Homo sapiens: one gene and its partners. Each later gene encodes a partner of the first gene's protein in a complex. Each region holds a gene or a part of one and is shown on either strand. Other genes may lie near its edges. The genes, in order: HRH1, GNAS and GNAI1. A codon is read from its position in the direction of its gene.

What was found.
Region 2: the proteins of HRH1 (region 1) and GNAS are in contact, whole or in part, in a cryo-EM structure (PDB 9LRB), measured with the Homo sapiens proteins. Residues at the interface, in NP_000852.1 of Homo sapiens: Asp124, Arg125, Ser128, Val129, Gln130, Pro132, Leu133, Arg134, Leu136, Lys137, Arg139, Thr140, Ile213, Ala216, Val217, Gln219, His220, Cys221, His223, Lys412, Ala413, Gln416, Leu417, Cys471, Asn472; in NP_000507.1 of Homo sapiens: Gln35, Arg38, Ala39, His41, Lys216, Val217, Asn218, Phe376, Cys379, Arg380, Asp381, Ile383, Gln384, Arg385, His387, Leu388, Gln390, Tyr391, Glu392, Leu393, Leu394.
Region 3: the proteins of HRH1 (region 1) and GNAI1 are in contact, whole or in part, in a cryo-EM structure (PDB 9LRD), measured with the Homo sapiens proteins. Residues at the interface, in NP_000852.1 of Homo sapiens: Arg125, Ser128, Val129, Pro132, Leu133, Leu136, Lys137, Thr140, Ile213, Val217, His220, Cys221, Arg409, Lys412, Ala413, Gln416, Leu417, Cys471, Asn472; in NP_002060.4 of Homo sapiens: Arg32, Asp193, Leu194, Asp315 (codon at 5,470), Phe336 (codon at 5,533), Thr340 (codon at 5,545), Asp341 (codon at 5,548), Ile343 (codon at 5,554), Ile344 (codon at 5,557), Asn347 (codon at 5,566), Leu348 (codon at 5,569), Asp350 (codon at 5,575), Cys351 (codon at 5,578), Gly352 (codon at 5,581), Leu353 (codon at 5,584), Phe354 (codon at 5,587).

The regions. Positions count from the first base shown.
Region 1 is NC_000003.12:11,253,762-11,264,853, reverse strand, and holds the end of HRH1 (histamine H1 receptor), read right to left. Parts: intron 5,852-11,092; 5' UTR 5,817-5,851; coding exon 4,353-5,816; 3' UTR 1,297-4,352; downstream 1-1,296. UniProt on the Homo sapiens protein: G-protein-coupled receptor for histamine, a biogenic amine that functions as an immune modulator and a neurotransmitter.
Region 2 is NC_000020.11:58,901,421-58,909,190, reverse strand, and holds part of GNAS (protein GNAS), read right to left. Parts: intron 5,664-7,770; coding exon of another isoform or gene 5,661-5,663; coding exon 5,606-5,660; intron 5,520-5,605; coding exon 5,400-5,519; intron 3,809-5,399; coding exon 3,711-3,808; intron 30-3,710; coding exon 1-29. UniProt on the Homo sapiens protein: Guanine nucleotide-binding proteins (G proteins) function as transducers in numerous signaling pathways controlled by G protein-coupled receptors (GPCRs).
Region 3 is NC_000007.14:80,211,902-80,221,830, forward strand, and holds part of GNAI1 (guanine nucleotide-binding protein G(i) subunit alpha-1), read left to right. Parts: intron 1-814; coding exon 815-968; intron 969-5,401; coding exon 5,402-5,592; 3' UTR 5,593-9,929. UniProt on the Homo sapiens protein: Guanine nucleotide-binding proteins (G proteins) function as transducers downstream of G protein-coupled receptors (GPCRs) in numerous signaling cascades.

The DNA of each region.
Region 1 (11,092 bases):
TATCCTGAGTTTGGGACTTTTGAACTGATGTTCATAGAGTGGGAATAGGATTAGTTTATGTAGATCATTGGCAGTATCCTAGAGAGGGAGTTTCCTTGAATTCTTAGCTTGAGATTCCTATGGCTGACTTGTCTCAAGCCCTCCTCAAGGCAAAGTCATCCAAAGTATCACTAGATTCCACAAAGCATGCCATGCTATGTGGCTTGAACATTTGTCCTCTCCAAAACTCATGTTAAAATTTAATTGCCATTGTGATCATATTGGGAAGTGGGATCTTTAAGAAGTGTTTAGGTCATGGGTTTCCACTCTCATGAATGCACTAATGCTGTTATCATGGGAGTGAGTTCTTTATTACAGGAGTGGGATTGCTCCCTTTTGCTCTCTCTTGCCCTCTCTTTGCTCTTCCATCATGTCATGATGCATCAGGAAGGTCCTCACCAGATGCCAGCACATTGATATTAGACTTACCAGCCTCCAGAACTGTGAGCCAATAAATTTCTATTCATTATAAATTACCCAGTCTGTGATATTCTGTTATAGGAGCACAAAACAGACTTAAGATACTCTAGTAACTATTCACAAAGTTGATTTCTGTCACTTGCAAACCTGAAGTAGCTCCACAGGGTTGAAATCATGTCTTTCTGGCTCAGGCCAGACATAAGAAGTGCTGGAAAAATATTTGTTAATTAACAGATAAGGTCTGGGAATCCAAAATAGATATGGGGACCAGAGCTAATGATTGCTCAGACGACAAATGAGGCTTCCTTGTTAGCAGGAAGATAGGGTGAGGCTAAGGAAGAAGACCTGCCTCTGCTGCCTGGAATGGGATAGGCAGACCATTGGGGCTCCAAGACCATGGAGCATTAAGAAAGATGCAGACCCAGGAGACTTAAAGAGGCAGAGAATGTTCTCAGACACAGCAGGGTCATGAGGCCCTGTGACACTTATTCAAGGCTACAGTGATTCAGGTCAATCCACCTTCATCATTTGTCTTGCATCTGAGTTGAGAAGAGTACATGCTCCCCACAATGAGAATTATATGTCACGTCAAGCTAGGCTTTGAAAGCCTGACAAATTGTGGAATGATAAATATTGGCAAATAAGATCTTTAACAGCATGTTTCTATATTTTATTTTATTTTATATTTCATTTCATTTCATTTCATTTTAAGACAGAGTCTCTCTCTGTCACCCAGGCTGGAGTGCAGTGGCCCAATCTTGGTTCACTGCAGCCTCAACTTTCTGGGCTCAAGTGATCCTCCTGCCTCAGCCCCCCAAGTAGTTGGGACTGCAGGTGTGCGTCACAGCCCCTGGCTAATTTTTTATTTTTAGTAGAGACAGGATTTCACCATGGTGCCCAGGCTTGTCTCGAACTCCTGGACTCCAGCCATCTGCCCGCGTCAGCCTCCCAGTGTGCTGGGATTACAGGCATGAGCCACCATGCCTTGCCAACAGCATGTCTCTATGGCACTTAGGGTGCATAAATAGCCAGGAGCATCCCAGCATCTTTTTCATGCTGAGTTAAGACTATTAAATCCACCTCCTGGAAGTCCATGCAGTGCCCATCTTCAAAAGAGGTCAGAGATTGTCCACAAGCCAAGTAGCCAAATGACCAATTTATTAAAGCCATTAGCCACTGATGGGCTGGGGCTTTCTTAGTGGGCTGGGGCTGACATTTCTGTATCATAGTCTGTTGTCTTTTATACATTCAAAAATTAATTTCCATCGTTCAGACAGGAGTACGAAGAGCAGATTGATAAAGTGGAAAGGAAGCACATTCCAGAATCAGACCTCGGAGCAGTTCCTCAATCTCTCTGGGCCTCAGTTTGCCTATTTGTAAAGATGGAAATCTCCCTCATGAGGTTGTTGTAAAGGCAACATTACATAATGGCACCAATACCATTAGATAACATTAGATAAAACACAAAGCCTGGCACATGGTATGTGCTCAGCATGTTTTAAAAATGCATAGGAGTGCCCTCTGTATACCAGACACTATACAAGCACTAGAGACACTGTATACAATAATGCATAGACCTTGTTCCTTAGACGCTGGTAATTTATATTTATTGACCATTTCTTGTTCTTGTCAGACTCAAATCCAGGTCTCTCTGACCCAGAGGCAGAGCTCACAATCAGTTCTCTCCACTAGTTGCCTTGATTGTTCAAGGTAAATAATGGACACTTAGCCACTTGTCTGTGTGAAGTGCTCTTTTCGAGTGTTCTTTGGTCCTGAGGGACCCTGAGGAGCAACTCTCTCACAGGGAGGTCTTCTGAACAATGGTTTCTGACCTGGAAACAGACCAGCTGCAGCTTCTGAAACCGGGATTAAAGTCTCCTAAACTCCCCCCGTTTTGAACAAGAAGTTTGGGGGATGCAAAGCAGAGTGAGAATGAAGCTTTTTACAAAAAGTAAATCCTTTTGAAAAGACATTTACAAATGTGATGAGAAACCAAAGAGAAAGCCCATATCAAACTCTGTTAACATTTGATGGTACATTTCAAAACATCTTCTTAGTCCAAGAGACTCAGAAAGGTAGAAATAAATAAATCACATAGAGTATGCTTTTAAACATCATATTTTAGGCAGGTAAAAATATCTCACTTTGACAGATCATGCAAAGAGGAACACAAAATACAAAACATCAGCTTGTACAGGCACTCCATATGCTATACATATTGTGGTTTAGCACCAAGCTTTAAAATATAAATCACAACCAGATTGCAACATAAACACCAAGTAAAACTACATGTTCCTATGTCTTTACTAGTTTTTGCTTACCAGGTATGGCTATGAAAGATTACAATGACTTTTTGACAAACACAACAGAACTCACAGATAAAAATGCACTTGGTTCCTTCAAAGCGTCCCCTTCCGTAGGTGCACGGGAACTCCATGTCAGCTGTTCGTCTACTCAAACATATCATTTTGAGCTGCCACCACTCTTGGGAATACCGTGTATGTGTATCTGTGCACACTTAAGAGGGCACATTGTTAAAATATTGTATTTTTTTTTTTGAGACAGAGTCTTGCTCTGTTGCCCAGGCTGGAGTGCAGTGGCGTGATCTTGGCTCACGGCAACCTCCACCTCCCGGGTTCAAGCAATTCTCGTGCCTCGGCCTCCCAAGTAAGTGGGACTACAGGCATGCCCCACCATGCCCAGATAATTTTTGTGTTTTTAGTAGAGACAAGGTTTCTCCATATTGGCCAGACTGGTCTTGAACTCCTGGCCTCAAATGATCTGCCCACCTCAGCCTCTCAACATGCTGGGATTATAGGCTTGAGCTACCATGCCCGGCCAAAAGGGCACATTTTTGCCTTTCGGAGAAAATATGCTACAATAAGCTGAAACCCCAGAGGATCTGTACTCTAACTTTCTCACATAACTAGCTATGTGACCTTGGGTACCTCTCTCACCTTGCTGAACCTCAATTTGCTCCTCTGCAAACTAGAGTTAGAAAATTACCCTCCTGTGGGGTGTTGTGGGGCTTAAATGAGATAAACCTAGTACAGCCCTCAAAAATATGGCATTCTGCCCCCATTCCTTCTTTTAATTTTTAACGTGCAACCATTCAAAAATATTTCATTTCTCTTTCTTTTGAGGATGTCTTTTGCCACCACTTTTTTAATAGCCAAAGGAAATTTGGGGTTAAAGACGATGGGTGTGCAAGCTGCATAATTTTCTATCCACTCTAAACATGTTTGAGTAAGAAATAATAAGGCAGAATTTCCAGGGTGGTTCAGACACTGGTTCTGGAGAAAGCTGTTAAAGAGGCTCAGAAGAGAAGTTTTCTGAGAAGGGATAGCCCCTGTGGAACAGCTGTCATGCCTCTCAAGGTGACCCCTGGAAGGGGACAGCAACTATTGGCATGGATAAAGTCTCTGCACAGTTATACAGCTCCATTCCAGGAGGGCTCAAGAGTCCTTTTCAATTCTCCAGTGGAACCCTAGCCACGTGTCTCTTCAGTTGTCAATCACTTGACTCGGAAAGCTTGAATTACAATGAGTCTGAGGCTCCCATAGTTCCTGAGGAGCAGGAGAGTTCCACCCAGGTCTGATTCTCTCTCTCTTTTATTTTTATTATTTTTTTCTTTTTGAACCCAGTTACAAGAAACAGGTCTGACTTTCTTGCAAAGATTCTGCTTCCTCCTCAAAGTTCAATCTCTCTGCTGATCACCGCCATCTGCTGTTCTTCTATGGTGCCTAAGAACTTTCCAAACTACCAAGCCCCTAAGACTGTGGTTTGGATTCCAGAAAGCCCAGGTGCCTGCCTGGCAACACACAGGCCTTCGTCCTCTATTTCCTTGTTGGACATCATAAGGATCATTTTGTTGCATCCCCTCAGAGCCTCCCTTAGGAGCGAATATGCAGAATTCTCTTGAATGTCTTCTTGAAGTTCTCATTGCACAAGGGGTAGATGAGGGGGTTCAGTGTGGAGTTGATGTAGCCCAGCCAGATGGTGAACATGTGCAAATGTTCATTGCAACAGTTCTTGCAGAAGGCAATGACCATGAAGAAGATGAAATAAGGGATCCAGCAGAGGATGAAGGCTGCCATGATAAAACCCAACTGTTTGGCGGCCTTCCTTTCGCGGTTCATGTGCAACCCAGATACATACTGTCTTGAATGCGAGCGGAGCCTCTTCCAAGTAAACTTGATGTAATCCAGGCCTGTGTTAGACCCACTCCTCAATTTGCCTTTGCCTGGTGCTGTCTCTGTGGTGGTATCTGAGTCCGTTCGAGAGAAGGATTGGCTATCACCTAACATCTGATCCTCTGATATCTCGCTGGCCCCATGTGTGTTCAGGCCCTGCTCATCTGTCTTGAGCTGGCCATGGCTCCGGTTGACGGCTACATAGTCCCTGCTACTCCCCTCTGCCGCAGCCTGCATGTGCACAATATCAAGTGGAAAGCAGTAGAGTTTGTCTACTTCTCTATCATCCTCTTGGCTGAAGACAACTGGGGATTTCATCTCCTTGGGGGTTTGGGATGGTGACTTCAAGACAGATCCACCACCAGCATCTTTTGGCTTCCTTTTCAGAACCTCCCAGGGAGACTCCTTCCCTGGTTTCTTGGCATCCCCCTTGGGGTTCTCTGGCCTCAGCTTAATTTCTGAGAAGGAAGGGAGGGACCTATTGATGAGCTCCCGGTGCTGGCAGTGTTGTCGTACGGCCTTGTAGATCTTGGCATAGAACCAGAGCATGAGCAAGGTGGGCAGGTAGAAGTTGATGATGGCAGTCATGACCTTGAACCAGGTGACATCATAGAAGTCTGTCTCACACTTGTCCTCTCGGCGCACCGAGGTCTGCTGCATGAAGTGATTCCAGCCTAGAATGGGAATAACCCACAGAAAAGAGAGAAACCAGGCCCCCAGAATGGTGGCCGAGGCTCGGGTCTTGGTACGATACTTAAGGTACCTGAGGGGCTGCTGGACAGAGCGGTAGCGATCAATGCACAGGATGAAGACACTGAAAATGGACGCTGTGCTGGCCACATAGTCCATGGAAAGCCAAAAGAGGCAGAGAGGACGGCCCAGTGACCACTTGGACATGAGCAGGTAGAGGATGTTCATAGGCATGACGACGGCACCCACGATCAAGTCCGCCACCGAGAGGCTGACGATGTACAGGTTCCCCACAGTGTGGAGCTTCCGCTCACTCCGTACGGCATACAGCACCAGCAGGTTGAGCCCTACTGTGACCAAGCAGATAGTGCTCAGGACCACCACCAGGGGCATCAGCTGGGGGCTGGCCATAGTGGTCTTGTTGCCCTCACACATCTTGTCTTCTAAGAGGCAGGAGGAATTGGGGAGGCTCATTGGCGCAAGAGCAGCCACCAGTTATGGCTCACTCCCTGGGAGAAAAGAGAGAAAAAGTAAGGTCAGAGACTTGGGTGATGAGTGGCCACTTAGTAGCATGATGTTCATCAGACTGGAGTTGTATGCTGTTGGGGGTGATCAACACTGCTGGTTACCTACTCAATAGCCATGTACCCTTTTCCTTATTCATGCATTCATTTGCTCACTTAACAACTATTTATTGAATTTCTGTCACTCTTCTAGGTGTTGAGAATATAGCTGTGAACAAAATAGACAAAAATGTTTGCCCCTATGGAATGTGCATTCTAGTGAGAGAGTTGGGCAGAAGCAAGACAAATGTGTTTGTAGAAATCTAATTCCGCACATGTTCTGGGAAGGTGGGCTGCATCCTCATGTGTCTAAGCAGAATATAGCAATCCAGTTCCTCTTTACAGTGGCAGATAGAGGAGTGACCATGAGATACCACCATGGCCAAGGAATAGGATGAGGATGTCAAACAGCAGAGGCGGAGTTTTTAGGAACGTTCTTCCTCTCTGACAAATGATCAAAACAACAAAAATTGTTGTTGCTCACTTGCCTCTTTCTCCCTGACAGGATGTGAGGAAGTGATGTTTGAGGCCATGAGAGTCATCTTGGGACCATCGGGAAGGCCAAGAAAATGCCAGCCTAGGGCCTTGCTGTCACTAAGCTGCTGAGCCAACTCTGGAATCTTCTTCTCCCAGACTTATTATTATGGGAAATAATTAAATGGGCTTTGTTTTGCTTGGCTTTGCTTTTTTTTTTTTTTTTTTTTTTGGCTTACATCACTGTTGTGGCAGTTCTTACTTGCAGCTGAGACCATCCCTAAATGATATGGAGGAGGTTATAAGGGGACACACCAGAGGCACATAAAGCATGAAATAAATCTAGCATATCTTTTTAGAGGAAAATTCTCAAGTGAGAAGGGGATTATGTTATTGGAAAAGCATATTCGTTATTTTACTTTTCTATTTGAAAAACAAACAATTTTTTTAAATTACATAAATCATGCCAAGTAATATGTAACAAGACCCTTGCTAGTAGGCTGGAAATGGTGGCTCACACCCATAATCCCAGCATTTTGGGAGTCTGAGGTGGGAGGATTGCTTGAGGGCAAGAGTTAAAGGTGGAATGATCACTTGAGGCCAAGACTTGCAGCCTGGGCAACACAGTGGAATCCTGTCTTTACAATGAAATTTTTTAAAAATTGTCCTATAATACACCTATAGTCCTAGCTACTCAGGAGGCTGCAGTCAGCTATGATCACATCACTGCACTCCAGCTTGGGTGACAGGGCAAGATCCTGTATCTGAAAAATAAAAATGAAAACCCTTTGCTACTAAGGCTCTACTGAAAACGGACTGTATCCTCTGTTATTGGTGATACTCAAGTCGGGTGGTTGGGTGAAAGTAAGTATTAAATCTTCTGGAAGGAGTTTTTAAGATTTTTTTTTTTTTTTTGAGATGGAGTCTCACTCTGTCACCCAGACTGGAGTGCAATGGCACCATCTTGGCTCACTACAATCTCCAGCTCCCAAATTCAAGTGATTCTCCTGCCTCAGCCTCCTGAGTAGCTGGGATTACAGGAGTGTGCCACCACACCCGGCTATTTTTTTTGTATTTTTTTAGTAGAGACGGGGTTTCACCATGTTGGTCAGGCTGGACTTGAACTCCTGACCTCAGGTGATCCACCCACGCTGGACTCCCAAAGTGCTGGGATTACAGGCATGAGGCACCACGCCCAGCCATTTTTTTTTTTTTTTTTTTTAGGACAGAGTCTCACTCTGTCGCCCAGGCTGGAGTGCAGTGGCACCATCTCAGCTCACTGCAACCTCTGCTTTCTGGGTTCAAGTGATTCTCATGCCTTAGCCTCCCGAGTAGCTACAATTACAGGCACCCACCACCACGCCCAGCTAATTTTTGTATTTTTAGTAGAGAAGGGGTTTCACCATGTTGGTCAGGCTGATCTTGAACTCCTGACCTCAGATGATCCGCCCACCTTGGCCTCCCAAAGTGCTGAGATTACAGGTGTGAGCCACTGCGCCCGGCCAAGTTTTTAGATTTTCATATTCATCAAAAAGTGGTGAGTTTAAAGAAAACTGATAAACACTAATAAATAGTAAATTTCTCTCAATAATTTAGCAAAAAGAAATTATTTTTACATTAAGACAAAGCCAGATAAGTTCTTGAGTAGAAGGCTAAATTTATTTATTTATTTATTTAGAGACGGAGTCTCGCTCTGTCGCCAGACTGGAGTGCAATGGCGCGATCTCGGTTCACTGCAACCTCTGCCTCCCAGGTTCAAGTAATTCTCCTGCCTCAGCCTCCTGAGTAGCTGGGATTACATGCGCCCACCACCACGCCCAGCTAATTTTTGTATTTTTAGTAGAGATGGGGTTTCACCATATCAGCCAGGATCCTTTTGATCTCCTGACCTCATGATCCACCCACCTCAGCCTCCCAAAGTGCTGGGATTATAGGTGTGAGCCACCGTGCCTGGCCTGTAGAAGGCTAAATTTATATAACTTTTTAAGATAAAAATCAAAACCCCAAGGTGTTTGATCCTTGTGGAAGGAACCTTTTAAATGTCTTTGTTGGAAAAACACCATTTTGGGCAGCACTGATTTTGCCCAAGCTCTACCATTTATTTTCTCAGTGATCTCTTGGCCTCCATCTTCTCATGTGTCAAATGGGTAGGGTGGGATAGACAATCTCTAAAGACTTTTCCAGGTCTCTTTCTTACAGCGGTATTTTTTGATGTCCTCCAGCTCTGAGGTGCCAATCAGAGCAATCCTCTGATTGCTGATGGGGCCTCCTCTGACTTCTTCAAAAGCATCACTGTCTCCTTGGGTGACCCAAAGTCCTGCCCTATGCTCCTGTCACTCTGTGCTGTCGGCCTCGGGGATCTCATCCTCTCACTTACCTACCCCTCAGCCATCACCTCCTATGAGGACAACACTCAAACCCACAGCTCCAGCCTGTATTTTTCTCCATTCCCACATCTAATACCTTGCAGCTTCACCTTCTGCCCTGATCAAGTCCAAACCCTGTGGAATTGTCCACAGTCACTTCTGGAAGGAAGAAAGTAGGCTGTGAAAGGAAAATAACTTGGGGCCCCAAAATCACTTAAGGTAAAGGGAAAAGTCAAGTTGGGAACTGCTTAGGGCAAACCCGCCTCCCATTCTGTTCGAAGTCAGACCTCTGCTCACTGAGATAAATGCATATCTGATTGCCTCTTTTGGAGAGGCTAATCAGAAACTCAAAAGAATGCAACCATCTGTCTCTTATCTTCCTAAGACCTGGAAGCCTCCTCCCGGCTTCCAGTTGTCCTGCCTTTCCCAGACCTAAGGAATGTTCATCTTGCATATATTGATTGATGTCTCATGTCTCCCTAGAATGTATAAAACCAAACTGTGCTCTGACCACTTTGGGCACATCGTCAGGACCTCCTGTTGCTGTGTCATGGGTGTGCGTCCTCAACCTTGGCAAAATAAACTTTCCAAATTAACTGAGACCTATCTCAGATTTTCGGGGTTCATAAGGCTAAGGAAGTATTGTCTCAGGGATTTTTATTTTTTACTGTTTTGCTCGGAAGGAAGCAGGAAGTAGTTCCCCTAAACACTTCCCCAGCTTGGCATTCTCAAGGTGGCTCTCAGCTCCCTGGCCTCCAGAGGTGTCTCCTTTTTCTCTTTTCCTCATTGTCTGGCACATAGAGGGGAGAGAAACCATTTTTTATTTTACGTTATTTTTTATTTTTTAATTTTAATTTTAATTTGAGACGGAGTTTCACTCTCATTGCCCAAGCTGGAGTGCAATGGCGTGATCTCAGCTCACTGCAGCCTCCTGTCAGAGATGATAAATTCCTCTTCAAAAAGGTTTAGTTCTCTGTTCTTTGTTTCTTAAGACCAACTTCCTTGTACATCCTTGTCTCCTAGCTACCTGTTCTGTAAACAGCCTTCCTGCCTTCGCCAGGCCCAGACAAGTCCAGATATGCCTTCCCACCTAGTAACGGATAGTTCCTCTTCCTTCCCACCTAATAGACCCTATTCAATTTTAAATCTTAGCCAATCGAATTAGCTTAGATTGTGAAGTCCAACCCCAGCCAATGCGGAAAGGACACAGAAGTGCTAGGAACTGCATTAGGGATTAAAAACCCCTGCCCTACCCTGCTTGGTGTGCTCTTGCGATTGTGACTAGCACAAGCTGCACCCTTCTGCAGAAGTAAATTTGCCTTGCTGAGGAATTTTCTGCCTATGTGCTGTTTTTCTTTGTGGCACCAGGCACTTGTTTCTAACAAACTTGGGGGTTCATCTGGGATTCCCATTCTCCTCCGGGGAGGGTCTCAGATCATTTCTCGTGAGGAGACGCAGCCCGCTGCTTTGTTGCGGTGGCCTCAAGGGTAAGGGATCGAGACCCACCTGGTGTGATGAATAAACCTGGACTCTAGCAATGAGGGAAGAAAAGGCAGACAGATACTGTGGCGACCAGGTAACTCTGTGCATAGACCAAGGTAAGAAAAACCTTGGGGGCAGTGAAGTATTTCCTTGGTGGTCAGGACATCCTGGAGGTTGAAAGTGTGTGAGTAAGACACACAATTGAGTGCAGAGCAAGTGCAGAGTCCGGATCTGGTTCTGTAGTCACCTCATATGGCTTAAAGGCAGCTTGCCTGTTGTGGGGTTTATACCAACCTGCCTATGCTAAGAGGGACTTGAAAATTTCCGCAAGAGAAGCATATGGAGAAGGATAAAGCAAAAGCTGAAGAGTGTGAAAAATCTCTAGTAGGAGAGGTTGAGCCCCACAGACTCACTAGGGTGCAAGAAATCTCTAGTAAGAGAGATTGAGCCCCATGGACTCAGGGAAAAACTCTTTCTCCAGGATGGGAAATACAGCAAGTAAGACAAAAGATAGGAAATATCATGATCATGATAATATACCCTCTGATAGTCCCCTAGGCCTAACGTTAGAATATTGGAAGGATAATGGAAGGACCAAACACAAGAAAAAGCAGCAAATGATAAAAAACTGCTGTTTTGTTTGGACTGAAGAACCTTCCTCTCCCCCAAGCAGCTGCCACCACAGACCCTTCCCCTAAACCTAAAAAAGGAGCTTAAACCACTCTTAGATGACCCTTATGGAGTGGCAGATCAGATCGATCAGTTTTAGGACCCCAGATATATACTTTAGACGAGTTAATGTCTATCTTAGACATCTTATTCTCAGGAGAAGAAAGGAGCATGATACAAAGGGCTGCTATGACCA
Region 2 (7,770 bases), on another chromosome or scaffold:
GCTTGATCACGTCGATCTTGTCCAGGAAGCTGGGAGAAAAAGAAAGACACGTGGGGTGTTCACAGCGCTCACATCAATTTGCCAACTATTTGTGTCTCTCTACAAGGTCAGGCTCAACGGAAGTGACCGTCCCACAGTTATGCAGCACTAAGTCAATGGCACATTTGCTTGTGTGTTGGTTACATTTGTAACTCAAAGCTGATGCCTTAAGAAGGTTAGGGCAAACAGGATTTAAGATAAATAATTTTAGGAATCAGGGAACTCTAGATGCGTCTAGCAGCTAGCCTGTGGCCTCGACGCAGTGGGGCCACACAAACAGCACAGCACGGTGGTGGGGCTTTGTTCTTCGTGTTTATTTTTATTTTTTCTATTTTTCTTTTTTATTCTTTACTTAGCTTCTTTATTCCTGTTGCTCTCTGGCAATATTCTTGATTTTTAGAAGGTTTTATGCATATCAACCAGTAGAGAAAGGACCCCAAAACCAGGCTGGCCTATCACATTCTGTGCCATTTGGTAATGCCTGACAAAAACATTTTAATTTTCAAATTGCTTGATTAAAATGGCAAACAGTTTGAAAATTGTATACCTCTATATCATTCAGTTAAAAAACAATAAAGTGACATTCTTAAAAACATCAAGGACTTTCCCCTCAAGGGCACACGAGATTGTTTTAGTTACTGAGAATCTGTATCCCTTCCTTTTTACTTTTTAAGAATCTCATTGATTAAAGAGAACAAAAGAGGTTGGCACAAAGGGGCCCTTCTCGCCCTAGCCATCCTGAACAGGAAACAAACACAAAGTTCTCTTCCGTTCTGTTTGGTCCATGAAATAGAACACTCCAGATATTACGCTTTTCATTAAAAAAAGCATCTTGTTTGTGTTGCTTGACTAGACACACAGGAAAATTTACTTTTGAAAGATTGGGGTAATTAATATGGAAAATTAATGTTAAAACCAGTTATTTTTTGGAGGGAGGGGCATGTAGAGATTGGAATTGTTTTAAAGCGGGCTAACGAGAAAAGAAAATCATAAAGAGAGAAAAGTTTATTTAAAGAAACTGCCTAAGTTTTCTGTTCCCCTCTTCCTTTTTACTAGTTCAGAGTTAGTCTGGCTTAGAGGATATACTAACTTGCCCAATCAATCTTACATTACAGCACCAGTCCAGAAATAGCTCCCCAGCCGCCCTGGCCTCCAGCATGTTACCATGGCAACAGAACCACAGTTCTATAAATAGATCATCAGCACCAAATCTTGTGAGAGAGACATCTGGAGTGGAGCCAGCCAAACCCCAGCTCAACAAATAAAAATAGACAGCTTAAGAAATGGGCACACTACCAGTATCTGAACTTTAACATAAAGGCAGTTCAACCAGAAACGTGCCGGCCACGGCAGATGCAGGGCTGTTTGAGCCACGGGTGAGGGAGGACATTTTAAAAGTTTTAAGCTGCGTTGTTCTCTTTTTCTCTGAGTTTCCTTAAAACTTTTCATGATCTATACAAATGGTGCGTTTTCAGACAAAGTTTCAGGAGTAATTAAGTGTTGCTTAAAAAAACCCCAAAAACTTCTAAATGATTTGAGAGAGAAAACGAAACCCGACAAAATTCAACAATCTGGCTAAGCTACTGTTAATTAACGAAACTGGGTCTCCCTGCCCCCCCAGCATTCAAAACTGGGGTGGTTAAACTCTCTTAATCTTGTACCTGTACTTAACTTCTGACTTGGATCCAAAATACAAAATGCAAACAATTCCAGGATTTCCATTTGTTTTGCGTTACTATAATTAGCGCTTCCAGCTTTTGGTTCGAACTTTTGAGAAAATCAGGGACTTTGTTGAAGAAGGAGTGGGGGCTGGGGGCCATAGGGACCAGCCAAGATGGACTGTTTTTTTCTGTTCCTTGAAAAAATATACACATTTGCTTGTATATTAAACCGTGGAATATCTATGTATGTGGCAATTGAAAATAAAGGAATTTCCTATGGGAAGGCAGGGCTGGGGTTGATAGATTGCGCAGACCCTAACAGAGGCTTATATGATTTATAGATGAACAGTATTACCTCTTCCTCCCTCCTGTTTATTCAGGTGGTTTTCACAATCAGTTCCTTGGGCTTGAGGCTACTAAGTAAAGCAATCTTAGCCCTTGGTGAGTCAGCCTGGCACCTTGGTTCTGATTAGCTAATACTTCCTATAGCAAAATCAGTTCCGAGTTTCAGCTACTTGTAATAAGGATGGCTAAAACATCAAACCTCTACTAGACTCCCCTGCCCCAAGTCACAGGACACTCCTACTTCAGAATATCATTAACTGAGACTGCTTTGTGCATTTCTGCAGCATCAACAAACAGAAGATATCTTTACATTTTTGGCTGGGCACGGTGGCTCATGCCTGTAATCCCAGCACTTTGGGAGGCCGAGGCAGGTGGATCACAAGGTCAGGAGTTCGAGACCAGCCTGGCCAATATGGTGAAACCCCATCTCTACTAAAAATACAAAAATTAGCTGGTTGTGGCGGCAGGCACCTGTAGTCCCAGCTACTCGGGAGGCTGAGGCAGGAGAATCACTTGAACCCAGGAGGCAGAGGTTGCAGTGAGCCAAGGTCGCACCACTGCACTCCAGCCTGGGTGACAGAGTGAGACTCCGTTTCAAAAAAATAATAATAATGTTTACATATTTTTTAAATAACCCTGACCACCACATGCTTGCTATATCATGTGCAAGATGAGGGAAGCCATAAACTATTTCAAAGGCAACTTTCTAGCTATCGGGTACGATGTCCTCTGGGAGAGACCATGGTGGGTGACAGGGACAGAGGGCGATCCCTGAGGCAATGGTAAGTCAGGTGTTAGGCAGCAAGGGAAGCAGCCTGGGCATCAGGTAGAGTTGTGCAATAAAGTCTGTGTTTTAAGTTCCCCCTTCTTCATTTGCCAACACACCAACCAGGTGAGCCCACCTTTATGAGTGACTTTGGAGAAAGATGCTTTTCCCATTGCTACTGCAGGCCTTAACCTGTCCTCCTCGCAGGTAGTAATTTGTTTTATTTGAAAATAACCCCACCACGGTATTGTACTGCTTAGGTGTACAGTTTAGGATTTAAAATCCATTGACCACTTACCATCCTTGAATCAAGACCCGGTGAGAAGGAATAAATAAGGATATGAAATAGAGTTCAAAAGTCAAGACAACACAAAAACAAACTCTACCTAGAGTCACTAGGATCTAGTAACACTAGGCAGCTACTAGAGTCGCTTACCTGAGAGCAGAAATAGATCAATCAACAACTACCAAGGAGAGAGGAGGCGTAGCTATGTCTTCACCATTCCTCTTTGTTATGTTTTAAAATTACAGCAATAAAATATAGTATTTTTACATTATTCAAAATGTGAGCACAGCCCTATTTCCCTAAATGCTTAGGGTCAATTCAATTAATTACTTCCTACTAATTAGGAATACTATGAAACTCATCATCATTTTGCTCTAACAGGCTTTAAATGTTTATGTAAAATAATGTCGCTGCACTAAAAGAAAAAAAATGCAATTAAGGACTTTATAAATAAACAATTGAATCAGATTAGAACTTTCTGCCAGTGGGGTAACTGGTTGGCTTCTAAGAAAGGAATCATCAACAAGTAACTTTCAAAGCAGGATCACAGGTTTTCATGTTTTCTTGTTTTTGTCTGTTTTATGTGCTGATGGGTTGGGTGGCGGTTACTTACTACTGGGCACAGTCAATCAGCTGGTACTCGTTGGAGCGTTCGTAGCAGGCACGCACTCCTTCATCCTCCCACAGAGCCTTGGCATGCTCATAGAATTCCTGAAAGTGAACACAAGAAAGTTTAGAGAAAGGCAAGAGCTTGAACTAATCAACAACACTGTCATTCAAACCCTGAGACCAGAGTTCCCTATGTGACCGACACTTGGTGTGATTTTGAATTTTGAGCCCAATTAATGAATTAATGCTCACAAAGAACTTTAATTCAACACGTTAAACATATTCAAAAGTTCACGCAATTAGCTGCTGGGTCTTATTGTGAATTACTGGTTTTGGGTAGTTTCTTTTCTCGTGTGTAGGGGGAATGGGGTAAGCTACTGAGTAATTTAGTTTCTTCACAGAATTGTTTAGGAAGAATATACACTAAATGTGTTAGAATATGCCAATAAATGGTTCAATGTTGTGAAAATAAGAAACTTCATTTGTAAGATGTGCTGGGACTAAATTTTCCTCCTGGGAAAATGTGAATCTTACCAAAAAAAATGATGATGGGGGACTTGTAGGTAGGAACATAAAAGTTCAGATGTTAGTAGGACTAATAAAAAGTTATTGTTCTGATACATTTTTAATAGGCTGCTGTTTCCTTTTCCTATTAAATATAGAATCATATTTCAAGAAAGTCAGTGGGTTATATTATACATATTGTGTTTATTGCTTTTTTTTCAAAATAATGCTATTTAAAAAGTTTAGCTATCCATACTAACTATATACCACTAAATTTCTCCAATTTAAGTTTGCAGCCAAGTCCATCTAAAATATACAAACACAAATTCCCACGAAAGCCTGACAAAAGGCAACAATAACTCATTGTTTTAGCTGTAGACAAGTCTCTTCCCTGTGGGTCTTACAAACGCATACATCTTTCCATCTCGTTTCCCGTTCCCCGCTTATAAGCCATTCTCCCCACGAAGGGGCCTAAACTTATATGCTTGGGCTTGAACAGTTTTTTGTTCCCTAAAAGTAGTTCTTTAGGGAGCCAACAGTGTCGTGCATCCAGAGGAAAGTCTTTTCCATATGTTCTATTTTATGATTTTTGAGTTATGATTTAGATATATTTCATTTTTTTTAATAATGAGAAAAGATTTCATTTGCCCCAAGGACTTTAGAAAACTCTTAATAAAAAGGTCACCTGTTTAAAATGAGAATGTCTTCCATTTGGCACTTCACTGAGGCATCCCAAGGTACCTTAGGGCACTTCCAGTGGAGTAAATGGACAATTAGTATTTGTGTGCCATATTTAACATACAGTTTTGTCCTAAGATGTGAATGAGGGAATAATTAAGCCTGCCATAGCTCAGGACCTTTTTCCTCATAAAAATTTACAATCTAATAAAGTGAGATTGTAGTATTCAAGAGTGATGTTTATTTGTGAGGACAGGTGAGCTAAGATGTAGAAGGGGTGACAGAATTTTGCTCATCCATCTTGAACAAAGCCCTAATGATTATTATTATTAAATTAAGGTTACACATGAAATTAACTTTTTCCTAAGGATGGACATCACTGAAATGTAGTTTTGCCTGAAGTGTGGTTTGGATGCTCCTGCCCATGTGCAGGGCTGTCACTCATGTTCCTATATGGACACTGTGCTCAGGTGGGCGGGGCTAAGGCCACACAAGTCGGGGTGTAGCTTACGGGAGGGAAGTCAAAGTCAGGCACGTTCATCACACTCAGGATGTAGTCCACTCTGAACTGGTTCTCGGGGTTGGCCAGCTCCACGGGGGGCACCAGGTTGCTCATGGCGGCCACAATGGTCTGAAAATGATTTAGCAAAGCGGTCAGGGAACAGCACTGGCTGGGAGGGCGCTACAAGACAGACAGCACAAGGAGCCAGCACGTACTTCAATCGCCTCTTTCAGGTTGTTTTTGATGTCCTGCACTTTGGTTGCCTTCTCACTGCAGTGGGATTGAAAAGAAAAGAAAATCATATTGCACCATGTCAGTTAGGAGTACTGCTTTCATAAAGACATCCCGACTAAAAAGCATAGTATTCTGTTCTTCAGGGAGTTGTGGGTTCGGATCTGTGCAAAGATTGGAGGTAGCTGAATAAACATAGTTGCAAATTATAACCTCCCAAATGTGCCCTGAGGACACGCCCAATCGGGGCAGATTAGCAAATTGCCTTAGCAATCATGACTGTACCAGAAGTTGCATGCAGCTCATTTAATCTTTCATGGGTTTGAAGCCCCCACACTACATACTAACACTTCCTAAAGGCTTCTCCTGGTCCTATCAACATCTGGGTAGGGGTGAGGCTGGAGTGATAGGTCACTATGAGGTTGGGGTGGAACAAAACAGTCCCATGGTTTGACTTGGAATTAACTCAGTTGCTAGCATACTGAGAGAACCAGTGAGCACAGGTGGTGGTGTTTATAATAGTTCATTACAGGAGCCCGGGTGCGGTGGCTCACACCTGTAATCCCAGCACTTTGGGAGGCTGAGGCGGGCAGACTGCCTGAGGTCAGGAGTTGGAGACCAGTCTGGCCAACATGGTGAAACCCCGTCTCTACTAAAAACACACAAAAAAACTAGCTGGGCATGGTGGCATGCACCTGTAATCCCAGCTACTAGGGAGGCTGAGGCAGGAGAATTGCTTGAACCCGGGAGGCGGAGGTTGCAGTAAGCTGAGATGGCACCACTGCACTCCAGCCAGGGCGAGAGTGAGACTCTGTCAAAAAAAAAAAAAAAAAAAAAAAAAAAAGTCGTATGTGCGATGCTCCAGGCACTGCAGCTAGCAGCAATGAAACTTCTAGTTCATGATGTTAGTGCATGTTGGTCCATGTGCAATAGGAATCAAATAAGATTCCACCCCCTAGAAGGCCTTATAATCTAAGGGGGAGGGGAGGTCAGATCCCTCTGGTAAGTAGAGGTTGAAGGTTTTGTAGCTTTTCCTTGAGTTTAACTCAGCCACATGGGATGGCCTGCGTGGTCTTTATGGAATGATCTATATTCAGGGTCACTGGTCCCACAGGTAAAGGACACACCCTTTGGCTTCTGGGGACCATAACAGAATGTTAATTTTTGTACCACATTACACTGATCCAAATGCTGTATGTTTTTCAGAAACTAGCCTTCATTAGAAGCACAGCCAGGGAAGGTTCTCGAGTTTATGTTTTTAGAGGGCAAGAAAAGGCCTCTTGTGTGGAGTATGTATCTCATCAGGTCTATAGCCCAAAAATGGAACCAGCACACACAGCACACCTGCTGTACCTGTTAGGCCCTGGGAGGTGAGGGCGTTGTCATGCGGAAAAAAGGTGCTACGGTCCTGCCTCTCTGACAGGGAAACTGAGGCCAAGAGGGGGGGAGTCACCGAGGCAGAAACCAATGGGAGATGGAGGGGACAGAGTTTATCTTTTTCACGGTTTGTATATATATATTTTTTAATCTTTTGAGAGTCCCAGTTTTTGAAGCATTCACTTGGCTGATTCACCAATTCATAGACTGGAGTAGAAATTAAAACATATAATCTCTCCAGACTAGAACACGACAGTTAAGGCAGAGGAAAGGCGAAGGGAGGTTAATTAGCAAGAGCAGACGAGCAGACGAGCAGGGCAGGGCAGTCAGTGGAGCAGCAGGGGTGGGGGGCGGGGACGGACGGTGGGGTCAAGTGCGGGCCTGTCGACAGGCCTTCCACAAATCATTTGGTCTTTCCTTTCTCAAAGAATTATACTTACAAATTTATTCTTTCTGAATAAATGTCTGTGTACTTCTGGGCCTTCACCTGCTGAAGGATCCCATCTCGCCCCCTTCCTACGTGAAGCCCCTTTCACAGGTCACTGCACCACTGCTCTTCTACATTGGGTGAAGAGCTGGGGAAGTTCAGAGGGGCCACGCTCATTAGTGGTGGGGGGTGTCTGGGGTGGGGAGGGGGGACAGATGTTGCCAGGAATCCCCTCAGGGCCATTTAAGTAAAAGTGCTGCAGGTCCGGAGAATCTCAGAAACACAGATGACAGGGAGGTGAGCGAGCTTCAGGCCTTGTGTACAAATCTGAAATCTGATTCTGGC
Region 3 (9,929 bases), on another chromosome or scaffold:
ACAACGGGTTTAAGCTGCATGGGTCCACATATATGAAAATTTTTTTCAACCAAGCACATTCATGGGATGCAAAACCTGAGTATACAGAAAGCCACTTTTTCCTATGTGTGGGTTCCACAGAACTGCCTGCTGGACTTGAGTGTATGCACATTTTGGTACCCTTGGAGGTCTTTGTACTAATCCCCCTGAGTATACCGAGAGACGATTGTATTTTTAAAATCAAGTATATGAAATTATAGTGTAGTAGGTGCAGTGCAACACCACATGTTCATTTCTTTCATTTCAGCACTATAAAATGTATCAGTGCCCTCTTTGATGAGCACAGATCCTGGAAGGTCAAGAAACAGGAATTGGAAGTGTCCTTCCAGTATTTATATTTATTATAATATTTAGAGTATTGGGCTAATTGGGTCTTAGCTTGTTCAATTTAAGTTATTAATCTTTAAAAACCTCTATTTATCTTCTAATGGAAATTTAGATGAAATGAACTCTATGACAATGTCATTTCTTTTCACATGTTCACACTTCACATCCCTAGATTATAATGTCCTGTAGCAGGATATTCCCTGGCACAGAGCATGACATATAGTGGGCACTTGGCAAGTAAAAGTTGAATGCAAAAAGTGGTGAAAGATGATTAGACACTTCTCTTACCTAAAGTGAAAGTGTGTTCTGAAATGGCAGAAATGTATTTTTGTGATACGTATTTTTCAATCACTAAACTCTGTTTTATTACAACACCTTTTATTTTTTAAAATAGTCCTCAAAAATCCTTGCTGTTAGTGACGATTGGTTTTATTTTTTTCTATTACAGAACCGAATGCATGAAAGCATGAAATTGTTTGACAGCATATGTAACAACAAGTGGTTTACAGATACATCCATTATACTTTTTCTAAACAAGAAGGATCTCTTTGAAGAAAAAATCAAAAAGAGCCCTCTCACTATATGCTATCCAGAATATGCAGGTATTTTCCTTTTCTGGGAATAACTTGTCAAGTTACATATTTCTAAGTGAAACTTCCCCTAAGGCAAGAATTCAGTTGTTAATTTAAATCTCTTGGCTTAGTGATTCTTAGACCTTTAAGGGGTATTATTTATCAAACTGCAGTTGAGCATAAAAATTTCCTTAAGATGTAGATGAAATTACTGAAAATAATGTATTCATTTTATGGAAAAGCAGTTAGATAATTTTTAGTGATGACTCCAAGTTAAAATACTATTTTTTAAATCCAGTTAACAGATTTCATATCAGGTACTGTGTGATGTACAATAAATAAGACATGTCTCTGCCCACCATCTAATCTGAAAGACAGACATACTTAAACAACAGGCAATAGCAGTGCAACCTACTGCTAAAATAAGGAACATGAACATTATAGTAAGGGGAAATGAAGACAGGATCATTGAGGCAGCTAACTCTTCCAGAAGGGCAGGGAAGGTTTCACAAGAAGCCAAAACTTTGGTAATGAGACTGTTAATAGTGCTTTAATTTTACTATGATGGAAAATTCCCTGGAGTGAGGAAAGTAGACCTGAAGTACAGTCCTGACTTTTCCATAATTAGCTCTTTGATCTTGAACAAGGCAGTTAGTTCACCTAGGTCTCAGTATTCCATCTGTGAAGTCAGGAGTTGGGCTAAAACATTAGTTTTAGTTTAATTTAGTTCCTTGGAGCACCTCCTGGGTTGCTGTTGAAGGCGGAAATGGGAGAGGGAACAGAGCTAATTACTGCCCCCTGCACCCACCACCTTATAACTTTTTCATTAAAGCAGAGTAACTCAGCTTTCATCTGGTTTATGTATTGAGTAAAGTTTTACTTTAGTGAAGAGCATTCAGTATGCCTTAAAAAAACAGGGAGTTTGATTACCACTGGTTTATGTAATCTCCAAATCTAGATAGTTTGAAGAGTTTAGTTATTTACCCTCACCCCACTCTTCCTGTTTTTTTTTTTAAAAGTCTCAAGAATTTGTTTTTTTATAAACAGAATTTTCCTCAGTCTTGTGTTGAGTAAATTGTACGATGAGTATTCACTGCCATTTTACAGGAAATGTTAAGACAACCCTGTGATGTCAGTGCTCAGGTATCCCTACCCATACAAATGAGAATACCGGGGCTTCCTGAAGCCAGAGTCCAGTTCCAGACCCAAGTCCATTGTCCTCCTGCTCCTAGACCATGAACGACTAGGCTACATTTAATTAAACATTCAGTGGAACCAAAAGGGGAGGGTTCTTTGGTAAATATAATCATGTTACTTATAGCTCTTTTTGTGTACGGTGAAATTACACTTCAGTTCAAACTAATTTCACACATTTACTTACTTTAAAACTTTGCTTTCTTTTTGAAAGTCAAAGTCCTAAATCACTGTATTCAGCAACATTTTTTTGTGCTTATTAGAAATAAGCTACCCAGAGTCAAGATGGCTTAATTTTTCCCTTATTTGAATATATTTTTCAGTTTATTTTTATCATATTCTATGATGTAGCCATTTTGTACTAATTCATAGTACCAGATTCCCCAAGTGAATCCATAAATATTGTATACCTACGGGGATTTTAGAGCAACTAAGAATATACTTGTTAGCTCTTTCCTTGCCAAGTAGACAGTGTGTTTAGGAATTTTTGCTTGTGTTTTGCTTAAGTTAATAAGAATACCTGACTTCAGAATCTTTGCACAAAAAGAATATTACATAATTCTTTCACATCCCCAGAGTTAAGATTATTGTTTAAGATCTCCATGGCATGCCCAAAGTATTGATTCAGTTGCTTCTTGCTTCAGCCGCAACTCTCAATTTCCTGTGGCTGTGGAAGAACCCTGTGTAGCCCCTAAACAACTCACTTGATTTATCTCCTGTCTGTCTGCTCCTGTGTTACCCTTCTCCTCCTCTTCTTTTTCCTGTATGTTGCCACTTCACCAGTTTCATCTGCAGTCACGTCATCTTAGCTCTCTTATCCTTTCATAGTCGTATCTATTCTCAATAGGTTAAATTTTGTGGTCAGCCCTAATTTCTCTCTGGAGCCTTAGATTTACATTAGCAACTGCTTGAACATACATGTTTTGTTGTTGTTTGGTTGGTTGGGTTGGTCGGTTGGTTGGTTGGTTAGCACCTGAAGCTCAAACAGAACTCTTTTTCTTGTTTACACTCAGATCTCTTCTCTTTCCCTTTTGATTGTGTCATCAGCCTCCCAGTTCTTCATTTTTGAACCTGGTTATCACCTATACTTACCTTTGTTCAGGACAATTCTATCACACATTAAAAAACAATCTATCATATTTGCTCTCCTGTCCCTGCTTTGCCATTTGTTTCTTAAGACTTAAAATCAGAATGAAGAATGTTCATTCATATGTGTTGTAGCTTTTAGGGTAATCTAGCTAGCTGCCTAGGATATATAGAGCAAATTGAGCTAGGCACTCAATGTAAGCTGTTTGGCTGAAGCATAGTTTAATTTAGCAGTTGCATTAGCTTCTGTGGGCCAACAAGATGCTGTTGATTGCTTTAAAATTTTGGAGAACGAAACTTATGATTTAATAAAATTTGATTTTTAAAAGTATGTGATTTCTAGTGATATAAAAGAGTTAAAATGTAAACTTAAAGACGATAGCTTTAGTACCTTTTTATCCCTAATAAAAATCTCATAATCTATGCTGTCATAGCACATTACACAACATTCCTATGGGCATTTGTCACATTGTATTACACTGGATTCTATAAGATATAAAAGGAGTATGAGGCTTGTGGGGTATGATATTTACTCTTGAAGAGTTCACATTCTAGTTTAGGAGATTCAGCACTGAAAAAGAATTTAAGACTCTATAAAGCAATATAACAAAAACTGAAATAGTTATTTCTAGGAGGAGGAAAAAGTTTTTAAGTGATAGAGAACCCAGCTAGATTTGATTAATTAGGAAAAGTTAGATGGAGTGCCAATTTTGAGCAAATGTGAAGGCAGGCAGAGATCTCAGCCGGTGAAGTAGAATGAAGAGGAAGTACTACAGTACCACAGGTGGCAGTTTGCATGTTAGGTCCTCACGACATGGACCTGGGGTGAGCGCCAGTGTGGAGGAGAGGATCTCAGAATGATGGCACTGCAGAGCAGGCTGGGTAGTAGAGGACCTTGAAAGTCTGGCAGATAATTTTGGATTATTACTACAAAAGAGGGGTTTAAACAGTTTTTTTCCAAATGAAATTTGAATGTTTTTCAGTTTTTTTATTGAAGCATTACATAGAGCATTACATTATATACATTAATGTATATTATAATATTATGTACATACATACATACGTACACACACACCCTCAGCATAAGTGCGTGTTTAAAGGTTAATGTACCAGTATCCACCACTCAGGTCAAGAAACCAAACAGCTTCAGGACCCCAGAAAGCCCCATCATGCTTCCTCTCAGTCTTAACCAATCAAACCCTCCCCACAACACACACATAACACAATCACAACCCATACACATAGTAATCACTGATTACTCACTGATAATCACTGAAGACCTTAATAAAAGAAAGAACACAAAGGAAATATACACCCACTTCACATGTTCCACAGACACTATTGGTGAGGTTTTTGTCCTCACCAGTTCATTTTTCAAACATTGTTGGATCATACAGTATGCGATCTTTTTGCATCTAGCTTCTTTTGCTCAACAGTACACTTAGGAGATTAATTCATGTTACTGAGTACTTTCATTCTCACTTCTTCTGTGTCTTCAGTGATACACAGTTCTGTCAAGTGTATATCTAGAAACTGAATTGCGGGGTCAGAGTGTGTGTGTGATTATCTTTAGATATTGCCAAACAATTTCTGGAGTGTTTGTACTCAGAGGAAGTCTTTTATAGTCAATAACCTGAAAGCTGGAGTGTGTCATTCACTTTTTTTGTAACCTCATACTCCTAAACATCATTGTAGACCTTGGTACAATTTTTGAATAAAGAAAAATGAGTGAAGAATGCAAATTAATGTATATATAGAAAAGGGAGGAAAAAATACTGATCAGCATTCAGCCAACATTTTTTGATCCACCATTGGGCCAGAACTGAAATAGCATGCCGTCGTCAAGCATCTGAGCTGGGGTGTAGAGGACAGAGGATAAGAGGATAAAAGATCTGGCATTTGAGGATTGAGGCAGGAACAAAGATCATGATGAACACGGAATGCCATGTAAAGGAAATTTTTTGTTTAAGGGATAACTTAGTCATTAAAGGTAATTAACATGGAGTGTTTTTCATTTAGAAGAAATAGTGTCTCCCATTCTAGAAGGGAAAGCACAGTTAAGGAGTCCATGAATGAAACTGTATGAAACTGACTTCAGTTTCATATGTATGAAACTGAATTCAGTATTTTAAGCAGTTATTTTAACTTTTTGCATTTATGTTTCTTTCCTTTTTCCATCTCAGGATCAAACACATATGAAGAGGCAGCTGCATATATTCAATGTCAGTTTGAAGACCTCAATAAAAGAAAGGACACAAAGGAAATATACACCCACTTCACATGTGCCACAGATACTAAGAATGTGCAGTTTGTTTTTGATGCTGTAACAGATGTCATCATAAAAAATAATCTAAAAGATTGTGGTCTCTTTTAAGTTTTGCAGTTCATGGTAAAATGCATTTTCAAACCAAATGAGTACTTATATATGGATCTCTGTAGACTAGAGTCTTGCAGCAACACAGAATGTAATATAAGGCAAATGCATCTGGGACTTGACCAAAGTTGTTCTGTTTTGTTTTTTTAACTGAAAGTAACAGAAGGACCTTTCTTAAATGTGACAGATGGTCCTGCAGTGTGAAACTGAAGGACAGTGTTAAAGCTGGGCTCTAGTATATTGATGATTTCTGCATAAGTGTAAATATGCAAATGTATGTATACATGTATTTATGACTTTAGTTTTCGACATTATTTTTAGGTTTTAAGAGTGGCAACTTAGGATTTTAGGGTGATGGCTTTGGAAATAACATAAATATACCTTGTACTGAATGACAGACTATTACTACGTTTGCCAGTTTTAAACAGCTTTATTTATGTTCATGTCCTGTAAATTTTTAAGTACAGTAATTAATATTAGGAAACATTACAGCCCTTATCTAGATTATATGTATACTTGTATTAATAAAAATGTTATTTGTACAAACATTGCACAGACTATTTTAATAACATGATTTGTTCTTTAAATTTTATGTGTTTTATTGAAATGTTCTTAAGATGAATACACCTGCCTTTGGATCAACTATTTAAACATTGTATGCATTTTGATTTTTCCTACTTTAAGAAAATAAAATAATTTAATTTTACATTAGATTCCACGTTAGATTTGGTTTGAAAAACTAAAATTTCAGATTTCTGAGGATATACTGTCTTAGACTTATTGTACACACTTAGTTTTTATTCACTTGTTTTCACTCTGAATTTTAATATTTGGCTGATATGAATGCATTGCCTCAAAGGTGATGTCATCTTAATTTTTATTCACTTTAAATAACTACATTTTTGTTTATAACTAAGTTTGGAGGGATCCTAAGAGCATTTTTGTGGGTAAAAAAAAAACCTGTGGACATAATGAATTTTGAGACATTGATTGGTGAGGCTTTTATTTCCCTTGAGGAGTCTCTTGTACCTAGCATACATGATAGCTCCTTGTTGGGAAGATAACAAGAAGGATCTTTGAATACTCTATTGCTGATATAATGCAAGATTTAAATTTATACATATAACTAATTTCAAATGTAATTATCACACTATGTTAAAATTACTTTTTTCCCTTAGATAATTCAAATTTCTCCACTTGCTTGAGATTATATCATTTCTTTTTCAATTATACTATTATTTCTGAGAATGAAATGGACGATTACACTTAGAAAATGAGTAATAGTGTTTAATAAGTCAGTGATTATATGTGTGCTCAAATAAGTGTTATGTATCAGCTAGATACTGAGCTTTGATAGAATAATTTTCTTTTGATTATTCATGATGTGTCATCTCTGACCTTGTTTCAGCAAAGTAAACAGCACTCCCCACCCCACCCTCCTTTTTTTACTCATCTTGGAAAAGGTTAGTCTTTCAGTACACGTTGCTGGTAAGTAGTTTCCAAGTTACGTGTTGTCACTGGGTTGAAGTATATTTGTGTGTGTGTGTGTGTGTGTGTGTGTGTGTGTAACCATAAACTATATTCATATCTGTTTCATTTGGAGGATTTTCTTCTTTGTAATGTAAAGAAATTCAAAGTTATCAAAGTTCCTTAAATGTGTTAGTTTAGATTCTTTATGTGCCTTTCATGAAAGATATGTTTTCATTAATTTTACTGGTGGACCTGTAATATCCACATTGTGAAGCTGTGTATGAAATTCAACTATAATATGAATAAATTTGAATCATGAGAATTATGGGTTAAAAAGCCACAAAGAAGCACATATTGGTGACCATCATTAATGAAATCCTGAACTTTATTCTGTGTAATTGTGTTAATAAATCCTAATAAATTTAAATTTTTAAAATTTTACAAACCTATTGGCTAAGTACATTTTGGATTAGAATTTAAGTATCAGTCTGTTGTTTCTTCATTTCTTCTTTTTCTATGCTCTTTTTACAATTTCAGCTACTCCAGAAGCTCAGATTTTCCCTGTTCCAAGCTATGAGATGTGATGCCACATTTGGAATTGCCTTCTTGATATCCCCTTCTGAGAATGCATTGCCTGCTTTTTAACTCATTATATTCAAAACTAAATTCATCATCATTCTCTCCTTACACCAGTTCTCACCCTGACTTTGCCATTTTTCCTTACTAAGTACCATCATCATTTATTCCTTCAATGGGGAACTTTTTAGTTTAAGTTCTGGGATACGTGTGCTGAACATGCAGGTTGGTTACATATGTATACATGTGCCATGGTGGTTTGCTGCACCTATCAACCTGTCATCTAAGTTTTAAGCCCTGCATGCATTAGGTGGAACTCTTCTGATTCCTAATCTCCATTTCAATTTACTGACAGTTCTACAAAGCCTTAAATCTGTTTTTTGTTTGTTTTCCTTTCTATTCCTACTACTACCTATTCAAGTCTTTGCTAAACTTCCTCTTAAAATGGCATTATTAGTTAAATTCCCCACCTCCCATTTCTCTCTTCTCGAAAAACCCAGGTTAGTTATCCTAATGTAGAACTGTGGCCCTATCACCTTCTATTCCTTGATCTGCATTGGCTCTGATTTGTCAATAAAATTAAGTATAAGTTAGCCTGCCATTTAATGCTCTTCATCACCTGAGGCCTGTTCCTTTCTACACTGTATCCAAATAGTGTCCTGTGCATAACCTGGGCTTTCCTCCAAGTACTGTATTACTTACTACATGTGATATGCTTAGAGCAGTGCCTACAATGTGGGAAGTGTTCATTTGTGTCTGTCAATGTTATTTTTATTAGCACTTTTAAAATGGTGTGTAAAATGTATTGGCACTTTTAAATTTGGCACTTTTAAATTTGTTTGTGATACCTCTTTTAGACTCCTCTGGCATCTGTTCTTCAGGGTGCCCTTCTGGGAACTACATGATTCTGATAGAGCTGCCAATCGCATTTCTTACTTCTCCGTCTCTAGGCTTAGACCTGACCAATCCGAGTCCTCCAGCATTGGACGAGTGAGCCAATCATTGTCCCAGTTGCCATTCTTAAAGTCCCTAAGGCGCTTGTGGTTTCTAAAATTCTCTTCATTTCAGTAACCTTCTAAAAGTCTACTTTTTTATGCCTAATCTAGTTTAATCGAATTCAGTTTGTTACTGAAAAAGTACTGATTAAAATCCATATGTTCTCATTGAATACTGACAGTAACTAGAGATCAAAAAAGGCTTAAAGAGGTTAATTAACTTGAGCAAGACCAGATGAAGGTTTTAAACCTAGAGCTTCTGACTCCATGTCTGTCAGAGGACCCCAAAGATGCTACCTTATTTCCAGAAAATGTGTAAGTAGTGTTTCGCCTATCCCCACTCTGCCCTTGAGTTCCTCTGAGCCATAATAGTTTTTCAGATTTAAAAAAGGAGATACTTATTAATGTCTTTCATCAGAGCTATTTTTTACTCCTTAGATGTGAAGCTACTTAAGAGCACAGTTACCATTTTTTACATCATTTGCCGTTTGCAGAACCACCTTATGTAAATGAATTTAGTTGATACTGTAATCATTATTACAGATGGTAGCATCATCATTGCTTAGTGTGTTATGTTGGAAGTAGAAAGTGATGGTGAAAATCCTAGGCTCTGGCACCCCGTCTGGCTTCAAATCCTGGCTCAATTTCTTATTAACTGGGAAAATCTGGGCAAATAATTTAGTTTTGCTCTGCCTCCATTTATATCATCTGAAAATAAATAAGGATTAAATAATCCATTAATTTTAATGGTTGTTGTCAGCATTAAATAAGTTCACAGTACATGTTAAGTACCTAGAGGGGAGTGTGGAATGTATAAGCCGTCAATACAATTTGCTGTTATTTGATTATAAATAATAGTTTTAAGGTGCCTTTAAAATCATAATCAGTGCTTAACAAATGGTTGTTGATACGTGCTTTGAATGAAATGCCTCAAAAACAAAACTCTCATAATTCGTTTTCATAATGAAAACTAAGTGTCTCACATATTGATACTGGAAAATGAGAAAATGCAATCTCTAATCAACTTGAGGACACTTCTGTCGTTTTAATGTAACCAATAGTATGAGAGAGTTTATATTTTAATGTTAGGTTGGAAATTTTCTTTTTTTTTTTTTTTTTTTTTTTTTGGTATGGAGTCTTGCTCCTTCACCAGGCTGGAGTGCAGTCGTGCAATCTCCACTCTCTGCAACCTCCAACTCCATGGTTCAAGCAATTGTCCTGCCTCAGCCTCCCGAGTAGCTGGGATTACAGGCATGCGCCACTACACCCAGCTAATTTTTGTATTTTTAGTAAAGG